Regions from separate parts of the Homo sapiens genome. Here region 2 is linked to region 1. Evidence: fine-mapped expression QTL. Tissue or cell type: cerebellum. Region 1 holds a variant in brackets; the other region holds the start of a gene. All regions are shown on one strand. Distances are from middle to middle.

Evidence for each region. PIP is the estimated chance that this variant, and not a neighbour inherited with it, causes the effect.
Region 2: KLB starts here. The variant in region 1 is fine-mapped to the expression of KLB in cerebellum (GTEx, PIP above 0.99). The same link has a PIP of 0.9 or more in cerebellar hemisphere, cerebral cortex, nucleus accumbens, prefrontal cortex and substantia nigra.

What each region holds. Positions count from the first base shown.
Region 1 is chr4:39,451,092-39,456,291 of GRCh38, forward strand. It overlaps KLB (klotho beta), which reads left to right. Exons shown (of 5, transcript NM_175737.4): 5 at 1-442. It overlaps RPL9 (ribosomal protein L9), which reads right to left. Exons shown (of 8, transcript NM_000661.5): 6 at 3,773-3,853; 7 at 3,442-3,558; 8 at 3,033-3,134. The coding sequence ends at 3,452. Among named protein-coding and RNA genes, the nearest start is that of RPL9, 5.2 kb to the right of the region's middle. The variant G/A (reference allele first, on the strand shown) is at 3,031.
Region 2 is chr4:39,403,750-39,409,057 of GRCh38, forward strand. It overlaps KLB (klotho beta), which reads left to right and starts at 3,181. Exons shown (of 5, transcript NM_175737.4): 1 at 3,181-4,025. The coding sequence starts at 3,201.

The DNA.
Region 1 (5,200 bases):
GAGTCCTCCTTCTCTGCCACTTGGGCATTATTTTACTAGTTTTTAAGCCATCATCGCACAAGAATCCAAAAACCCTTAAATTTTTTAACCACTGGCAAATATGTACAGCAAATTAGGTTAAGCATTTAATCTGGCTCATGCTCTATCATACTAAATATTCAGGTTTATCATAAACTCCTTAAAAACCATCAAAGGTCAACCAGAAACTGATAACTCTTGAAAGGAGCAAACAGGTAAGATCTTTGGAGTTTAAGCTTTTCTGAGATGTGTTGTGAAAAATCTAACGTGTTTATCGTATATTCAATGTAACAACCTGGAGAATCACAACTATATTTAAAGAGCCTCTGGAAAATGAGGCCAGTACAGTGTGACTACATGTTTAATTTTCAATGTAATTTATTCCAAATAAACTGGTTCATGCTGACCACTTGTATTCAACTAACAACCTGGTCAATTTTAAGAACTGTTGAATGTGAATGGGTTTGGCATTGTAAATGGGCTCTGCCCCAAGACTGCCTCCCCTGAATCCCTTTCTGCCTAGTTGTGCACCAACTTGGTATGTTACTTCTGGGTATATTTTCTCAAAAAATGTGGCTCAGGTGTGGTGGCTCACACCTGTAACCCCAGCACTTCGGGAGGCCAAGGTGGGCGGATTGCTTGATTCCAGGAGTTTGAGACCAGCTTGGGCAACGTGGCAAAACCCTCTCTACAAAAAACTAGCCAGGCATGGTGGCACGTATTTGTGGTCCCAGCTACACAGAAGGCTGAGGTGGGAGGACTGCTTGAGCCTGGGAGACAGAGGTTGCAGTGAACCAAGATCACGCCACTGCACTCCAACCTGGGTGACAGAGACCCCGTCTCAAAAATATGTGGACACCTACATCTAAAAATTGCAAAAATAGTGCACAAGTGCTTATCCATAGTAGACACAGAAGACAATAATTAAGTTTTCCCTGGAGAACTAGGCTCATTTGTTATACCCAAGTTATTAAAAAAAAAAAATCACTGTTTAGCTACAGTCTCTTAAGTTACCTTATGAAGGTCAGACCCAGCATGCCAGTCCATTTCATGCTCAAAGAAATCTCATTTACTCCCACAGCAGCTACTCCCCATAAGCTGATCCTCTCATGAGCATCTCCACCCCACTAGAATATTGCCACTTGGAAATTTCTCCCACAAGCCTCATACTGTTTTGAAATCCTGTCAATACCTTCCCAAAATCTCTCTCTTCCAGTCCCACTGCTATTACTGAGTTCCTTGGCAATCCAGGAAACAGCTACATGCCATTGTTCTGGTAGCTGGAATACACCAGAGTACAAAATTACCTCCTTGTGAAGGTTACATCCTAGCAGAAAAAAACACATCATCAATACACAACCAATTGTAAATATTAAAATTACAAATGCTATTGACAAAAACAAGTGGAGAAGGGTAACGAGACAGTAGGACAAGCTTAAGGAGCCGGTCTACTATTTTTAATACGGTGGTCAAGGCAGGATTCACTGAATAGACCTGAAGGTAAGTGAAATTAGCCACACAGCTCAGCTGAGAGCATTCCAAAGGGAAAACGACAACTTAAATGCTTAATGACAGAGTGCTTGGTATAGAGGATTAGCCAGGTCAATTCAGCTATAGCGCAGAAGTCAGAAAAATTGAGTTAAAAACGGCTGCAGGTACAATGGGGAGGCTATTTTAAAAAGAAAAAAGGGAAAAAAAACCTGTTGCAGGATTTGAAACAGTGCTATAATCCATTTCAAAATCAGTACCCTGGCTGATGCTGAAAATAGACAGGAGAGGAAGATGACCAGTTGACTGTCACAATAATCCAGGTGAACTTCGCAGGTCTTTGTTTCATTTTCTACATTGTAAAAAATTTGTATCTAATGGACCCATATTTCCCAACCTTTCGAGGATGTGATCTTACTTCACGTTGATCCCATTCATCGCCTACAACCCCATCCGTTATTTCTGAGCAAATCCGAGATTTATGATTTCCTCCAAATTTCTTAAAAACCTAACCAAATAGTCATCAAACAACAAGACTCCTTAATGTATGTTCAATTAGTGTACTTGAATCCAGATCTAAGACGTATAGGGCATGGTGACCCATGCCTGTAGTTCCAGCCCTCTGGGAGGCCAAAGAGGAACACTTAAGGCCAGGAGTTCAAGACCAGCCTGGGAAACATGAGACCCCATCCATACTTTAAAAAAAAAAAAAAAAAGATGTGACGGTGCCTGCCTGTAGTCCTTGCTACTAAGGAGGCTGAAGCAGGTAGGATTATTGCTTGAGTCCAGTAGGTTGAAGTTACAGAGCTATGACTATGGCACTGTATTCCAGCCTGGGCAACTGAGTAAGACATTGTAAGATCCAAGATAACATATATGCCAACTGATCGTGACCTCTGTCCTTATATTTACTTTTTCTGATAAAGTACCTGACCATACCTTACAATGAAGGTACTTAGTACGTTTTCCTGACGCATTTGATCAAGGATGAATGTTAAATTTTGCCTTAGAAATTGCAGTTTCCATCAAATGAGATGTAGAATTCACAAAGGTTTGGGGGTCACCATGTTGACCTAAGTCTAGTTATGGTGGCCTTGTACCATATTTAAAGTATAACACATGGAATTAAGAGATTATGGAAGGGTTATCAATTTTTAAAAACAAGTTCTAGGGTATGGAAGTAAATGGCTGAGGTAAAGGACAAGATTATTGAGACCATGAACCAAACCAACTACACCTTCTAATTCTAACTGATGCTGTATCACTCTGTTCTACTCCTCAGCTGTTTCTCCACCAGTGACTAAGACAACATTTGCCTTACCAAATATTCAAATTCATGCCTCAGCAAATTTAGACACTTTCAGGGTATTCCTAAAGTTCTATATGCAATGATGAATGGCCTCATGTTTGCCTGTCACTGGTACAATATTCCTCTTGCCTAAAATATATCCTTGCTATTCCTTCAAGAACCAGATTAAAGCTCCTTGTTCCACGAGGGAAAAAAACTAGCTAAAAAGGATAACC[G/A]GTTTAAGAAGAAGGTCCAAATCAATAGGTCTTTTATTGCATCATTTAAATATCACAAGTAGGTCTTAAGTGTCATCTGGCATCTTCTTTCTGTAGCCAGGTAACTGTAAAAAAAGAAAAAAAATCTGTAAATCCCCATCAATACACTTGCCCAGGAAAGTACTAATCTTTTTTCTGTACTATTCTAAATAATCTAAAACATACCTCAAGACTATGACTTACTGATTCATAGTAAACTATACGTAGTAAAATGCATGCCAATTCCATCTTTTATTCTGTCAAATTTACTGTGTTCCAGAATGCTTAACTCTCCATTTTCTATTACTACAAATTCAGTTTAAGTCTTTTAGTAAATTAAGAGCTTCATTCAACTAGAGCAGTAATAAAACTTAAGACACTGTAAGAACTTACCTCTTAGATCTTATTCATCAGCCTGCTGAACAGTTCCTTTTTCAGAGACATAGATACCATCCAAAAATTTCCTGATATCCTTGTTTTTAACTGTTGTGGCTTGCTGAATCAAAGCCGCTATAGGAGTGAAGATAAAGCAATTAATACATCAGCCTAACCCATCTTAAAAAGAAAGTATTTCATTATGTGCTGTACTTAAAATTTCAGAATGTGACCTTTTTATTTTCACAATTTAAAAAGCTAATCAAATAAAAATTAGCAAAATACTGTATTTTAAACAAGATTTAGACAAAATCTTGTAGGCATAGTTAGACATAGTAAACATACAAACCTGAATTTGAAACAAGCTCAATGTCATTTCCTTCAAGGATTAATTCATCTTTCTGGGCTTGAGATACTGAACAAGCAACACCTAAAAGGGGAGAGGGCATTTGCACAGCATCAAATCTGTGTAAAAAATATTTAAATTGCAGAGGCACTAATTTATTCCATGTAAAACTCCATGCACCAAAAGAACCTTTTCTTAAGATTTTGAGGCCGGGCACAGTGGCTCACGCCTGTAATCTCAGCACTTTGGGAGGCCGAGGCGGGCGGATCATGAGGTCAGGAGATCGAAACCATCCTGGCTAACACTGTGAAACCCATCTCTAGTAAAAATACAAAAAATTAGCTGGGTGTGGTGGTACGTGCCTATACTCCCAGCTACTCAGGAGGCTGAGGCAGGAGAATCGCTTGAAGCCAGGAGGCAGGGGTTTATTTTTAACATAAGGGTTTTCATTAAATGTTGCTGACCATAGCTAGTATCAGAGTATTTCTGGACAGCCATTATTTTGATACTAAGAATCTCCCTTCTTCCCACCCCTCCCCACCCCAATGGAATCAAAATGCATCAAGAGGCCGAGCCAGGTATGTTTTAAGAGGCCAAGGGGGAAGAACTGCTTGAGCCTGCAAGTTCAAGACCAGCCTGGACAACATAGCAAGACCCTGCCTCTACAAAAAACTTAAAAATTAGCTGGGGCCAGGCACCATAGCATTCCTTGAAATCAGCCTGGGCAACGTGGCGAAACAGTCTCTACAAAAAATCAAAAATCAGCTGGATGTGGTGGCAGGCACCTGCAGTGCCAGCTAGTGGGGAGGCTGAGGTGGGAGAAACACCTGAGCACGAAGGTGGAGGATGCAATGAGCTGAGATCACGCCACCGTACTCCAGCCTGGGCAACAGAGCAAGACCCTGCCTCAAATAAAAAGCACTAAGCTTTAAATTTTTTTTAAAGCTACTGTGTTTACTATGTATTACGCATGCATTGTTGTTTTTCAACTTTAACTCATTTAATCAAAGATGTTTGCAATTTTAAGCTGCAGAGAGATGACATGCCCAAGGTGGACAGTGAGAGCTGAAATTTACGCTAGGCTATTAACCACTACTCATGTAGTTTTCTCTTTAGATTTTAAAGGTTCTTACCACGAAGAAATAAATGGAGTGATGGATGTGTTAATTAGCCTGATTTAGTCATTCCACAGAATATGCATGTGTTGAAACATCACATTGTGCTCCATAAATACACACCATTATATACACCTTTTGTAAATTTAAAGTCTTTTTAAAAGATTTCATTTGCCAAGTTAAATACAACCACCACTGCAAGCTACTCCAATGTATCAACTTTCTGAAATTGTAATCGACATAATGATATAAACCCTTAAGTAGCACCAACAGTTTAAGTGTAATCAAGAGATAATTCTAAAACAAATCTGGTTTT
Region 2 (5,308 bases), 47 kb before region 1:
CTAATGAGTACTAGGCTTAATACCTGCCTGCTGAAATAATCCATACAGCAAACACCCATAACACAAGTTTACGTATGTAACAAACTTGCACGTGTCCCTGAACTTAAAAGTTAAAAAAAAAAAAAAAAAAAAAAAGACGGCCGGGCGCTGTGGCTCACGCCTGTAATCCCAGCACTTTGGGAGGCCGAGACGGTCGGATCACGAGGTTAGGAGATCGAGACCATCCTGGCTAACACGGTGAAACCCCGTCTCTACTAAAAATACAAAAAACTAGCCAGGCGTGGTGGCGGGCGCCGGTAGTCCCAGCTACTCAGGAGGCTGAGGCAGGAGAATGGAGTGAACCTGGGAGGCGGAGCTTGCAGTGAGCCGAGATCCCGCCACTGCACTCCAGCCTGGCAGACAGAGTGAGACTCCGTCTCAAAAAAAAAAAAAAAAAAAGATAGACATGAGCTAGATGAAGGGAGAAACATACTCTGTGCAGAGAGCACACATACCAAGGTACAGGGCTACAAGTTAGCAGGCTGTGTACCCCTTAGTCAACTGAGAGAAGTGAAGCTAAAAATGTGGGCAGGAGCCAGAACAAATTGTCTTTTATGCTAAATCCTGGCATCATGTCCTGAATAATCTTTCCCTTTCACACAAAAATAATATTAGCACATAACTTACTATGTGTCAGTCTCTGTTCCAAGTGCCTTACATGTACTGGCTCATTCGTTTCTATATTCCAGAGAAAACCATTTGGTTCAGTGTATTAACTCGTTTAATTCTCACAATAATCCATGAAGTGCATATTATTATTATGCCTTTTCTTAAAGAGGAAACTGAGGGCAAGTTACACAGCTATATTTAAACTCAGGCAGTCTGCCTCTAGAGGCTCAATCTCTCTTTTTTTTTTTTTTTTTTTTTTTTTTTTTTTTTTTTTTTTAGACAGAGTTTTGCTCTTGTTGCCTAGGCTGGAGTGCAATGGCGCGATCTCGGCTCACTGCAACCTCCACCTCCCGGGATCAGGCAATTCTTCTGCCTCAGCCTCCCGAGTAACTGGGATTACAGGCATGTGCCACCATGCCCAGCTAATTTTGTATTTTTAGTAGAGATGGGGTTTCACCATGTTGGTCAGGCTGGTCTCGAACTCCTGATCTCAGGTGATCCAGCCGCCTCGGACTCCCAAAGTGCTGGGATTACAGGTGCGAACCACTGTGCCGGGCCTCAATCATCTTTTTTTAGAGGTGAGGATAGTCTCACTATATTGCCCAGGCTGGTCTCAAAACTCCTGGCCTCAAGCAGTCCTCCCCACTTAGCCTCCTAAGTAGCTGGGATTATAGGTGTGAGCCACCTCATCTGGCACAGAGACCAAACTATTAACCACTCTGCTTCTCATTCATATGTGATACTTCAAATATTTAAAACATTTATTTATTTATTTATTTATTATTTTTTGAGACAGAGTCTCATTCTGTCACCCAGGCTGGAGTGCAGTGGTGCAATCATGGCTCACTACAGTCTTGACCTCTTGGGCTCAAAGCAATCCTCCCACCTTGGCCTTCTAAAGTGCTGGGACTACAGGCATGCACAACCACACCCGGTTAGTTTTTAATTTTTTTTGTAGAGATGGGGCCTTATTATGTTCCCCAGGCTGTAAAACATTAAATTTTTTACAGGTTATTTGGAGGCTATCGATTTGGTACAATATTTCTTTCTGTATGTGCATGTATTTCTTTCTGTATGTTTATCTTTATTCCAGAATCATGCTGAAGGTAGTCTATGCCTTTGCTATTTTCTTTTTCAGGTTTTTCTTTCCTTTTTAAAAATAAATATTGCCTATTCTTCAAGGGAACTTTCATAATAATTTTCTCTTTTTTTTTTTTTTTTTATTTTGAGACCGAGTCTTGCTCTGTTGCCCAGGCTGGAGTGCGGTGGTGCGATCTCAGCTCACTACAACCTCCACGTCCCAGGTTCAAGAGATTCTCCTGCCTCAGCCTCCCAGGTAGCTGGGATTACAGGTGCCCACCACCGTGCCCAGCTAATTGTATTTTTAATAGAGACGGGGTTTCAACATGTTGGCTAGGCTGGTCTCAAACTCCTGACCCCAAGTGATCTGCCTGCCTTGGCCTCCCAAAGTGGTGGGATTATAGCCATGAATCACTGTGCCTGGCCTTTCGTAATAATTTTCTTGAACTAAAATTTGGGATTAGGCCAGGCATGGTGGCTCACACCTATAATCCCAAGCACTTTAGGAGGCCGAGGCAGAAGGGCTGTTTGAGCCCAGGAGTTCAGGACCAGCCTGGGGGACATAGCTAGACCCCACCTCTACCAAAAAATCAAAAATCAGCTGGGCATGGTGGCATGTGCCTGTTGTCCCAGCTACTTGGAGGCTGAGGAGGGAGGATTGCTTAAGCCTGGGAAGTTGAGGCTGCGGTGAGCTGTGATGACACCACTGCACTCCAGCCTAGGCTACAAAGCAAGACTCTTATTAAAAATTAATTAATTAATTAAAAAATTAGAGATTAGAGAATTTTAGTTAAGTTAAATAAATAAAATAAAAAATAAAATTAGAGATTAGAGGATTTTAGTTAAGTTAAATGTATTAAATTGAAAAGTATTTCATTTTTCCATCCACAAAGTGCTATATTTTCTCATTCAAGTCTTCTCTCAAATCTACCAATACATTTTTGCAATTTTCCTAAAATAGGTAACATTTATTAAGATTGTTCTTAGATGCGTTATAATTTTGTGGAGAAGTGTAATTTCTTATTGTGTTTTCTAATTCTTTACTATTGGTATGTAGGAATGCTATATACTTGTATATGTTATTTTTCTTGATATATGAGATTATAAAATTACCACACAAAAACTCTAAAAATAGAAAAGCTATATACCTTATTCAATAATGTTCAAAACATTCAGAAAAGATTTGGGTCAATATGAAAGGCTACACGGAAAATAATGTGATTTTAATCCAGTGTTTACATATGTGTTAGTTACACATTCAAACTCTTGTCACCGATGCATTTTCATCTAATTTTTTCCATAATGAGAGAGAAGGAGACGCGTTGGTGACTGCAATAGGGCCACCTCCCTCAAATTACGTTGCTCTCTATGACCCATCCTCAGTCTCCCAGTTCAAGCTAATCATTGACAGAGCTTTACAATCACAAGCTTTTACTGAAGCTTTGATAAGACAGTCCAGCAGTTGGTGGCAAATGAAGCCAGGCTGTGCGGCAGGATCTCCAGGGAATGAATGGATTTTCTTCAGCACTGATGAAATAACCACACGCTATAGGAATACAATGTCCAACGGGGGATTGCAAAGATCTGTCATCCTGTCAGCACTTATTCTGCTACGAGCTGTTACTGGATTCTCTGGAGATGGAAGAGCTATATGGTCTAAAAATCCTAATTTTACTCCGGTAAATGAAAGTCAGCTGTTTCTCTATGACACTTTCCCTAAAAACTTTTTCTGGGGTATTGGGACTGGAGCATTGCAAGTGGAAGGGAGTTGGAAGAAGGATGGAAAAGGACCTTCTATATGGGATCATTTCATCCACACACACCTTAAAAATGTCAGCAGCACGAATGGTTCCAGTGACAGTTATATTTTTCTGGAAAAAGACTTATCAGCCCTGGATTTTATAGGAGTTTCTTTTTATCAATTTTCAATTTCCTGGCCAAGGCTTTTCCCCGATGGAATAGTAACAGTTGCCAACGCAAAAGGTCTGCAGTACTACAGTACTCTTCTGGACGCTCTAGTGCTTAGAAACATTGAACCTATAGTTACTTTATACCACTGGGATTTGCCTTTGGCACTACAAGAAAAATATGGGGGGTGGAAAAATGATACCATAATAGATATCTTCAATGACTATGCCACATACTGTTTCCAGATGTTTGGGGACCGTGTCAAATATTGGATTACAATTCACAACCCATATCTAGTGGCTTGGCATGGGTATGGGACAGGTATGCATGCCCCTGGAGAGAAGGGAAATTTAGCAGCTGTCTACACTGTGGGACACAACTTGATCAAGGTACTGTACAGCTAGCTTCTTCTTATAGCTTCAGAAAACACTAAGAATTTAAGAATTTACCTTCTGCCTCAGTAATTCTCTTCACTGAAATCAAGGCAACTGATTTTAAGCTAATTCAAAAGATCTATCCTCAAATTTTGCATTTAAGTTAGTGTATGTTTTATTTATCTAAGGTATTTTTAATGTATTAATCCAATTAGTTTTTTCAAAAGTTGCACTTTGAGGCTATTTTTAAATCTACCATTATACACTACAGTGTGAATATATGAGCTTACTTTCATTCTGTGGGAAAACAGTGCTTCATAAATTTAATTGTTGGAACCCTTTTCTGACAACATGCAATCATTTCAGAATTATCTTAAGGCACAACCATTTCAAATATGTATTTGTTGTTAAGTATAGCTAACTTAGCTAATAAGTAAATAAAGTAAGTAAATAAGTAAGCCAAATAAATGTTAGCTAACTCATGCATATTAAATACAGAAATTTAAATATACTTCACTTTTGATTTTATTTGTGTTACATAGCAAAAAAGAGAAGATTAATTGTTATGGGAGCTAAACACATTTCTTCCCATAAGAACTGGGAAGAATGTGCTCTACTAAAGCAATTTTCAAGCAATATATTTCAAAAGCTAGAGATAATGTTGAGAAATGTTAAAATTAGTAAAACAATAGTGAAAATACAAGCAAAATAATAGGTAATAATTACTGAGTACTTATTATGTACCACAGACTACATTAAGTATTTTACATGCATCGTTACAGTTGATCCTCTTAACAGCCTTTTGAACTAGTTTTATTATTCTTCCCATTTAAAAGATGAGGAAACTGAAGCTTAATGAGATTAAATAATTTTCCCAAGGTTAAGGAGTAAAATACAGCTGTTGTGGACATGGATTTTTTAAATGACAACATAATTAACACTAACTGTCTTCATTAAGAATGCTTTGAAAAGAAGACTCAGGAATTTGCAAGAGATTTAGCCTCACATTGAGGCTAATATCTAGAATCGAATTTAACTTTTTGAGTCAAATAGTTTACTTAGGAAAAATAAATTATTCTGCACACCTGTTACATTTTAAAAATGAAAAAACTTTATCAATATAATTTTATAATGTGCTACAAAAAGTAATTTAATTATTAATAATCAAAAGCTAAATATACAGAAGTAGAAAAAAAATACAGCAACATAAAATAATTCCATGTCTAAATTTGTACATACAAAAATATCTGCTATCACTTCTTTTCTTTTTGAACTTTTCTGGATTATTACACATGTGC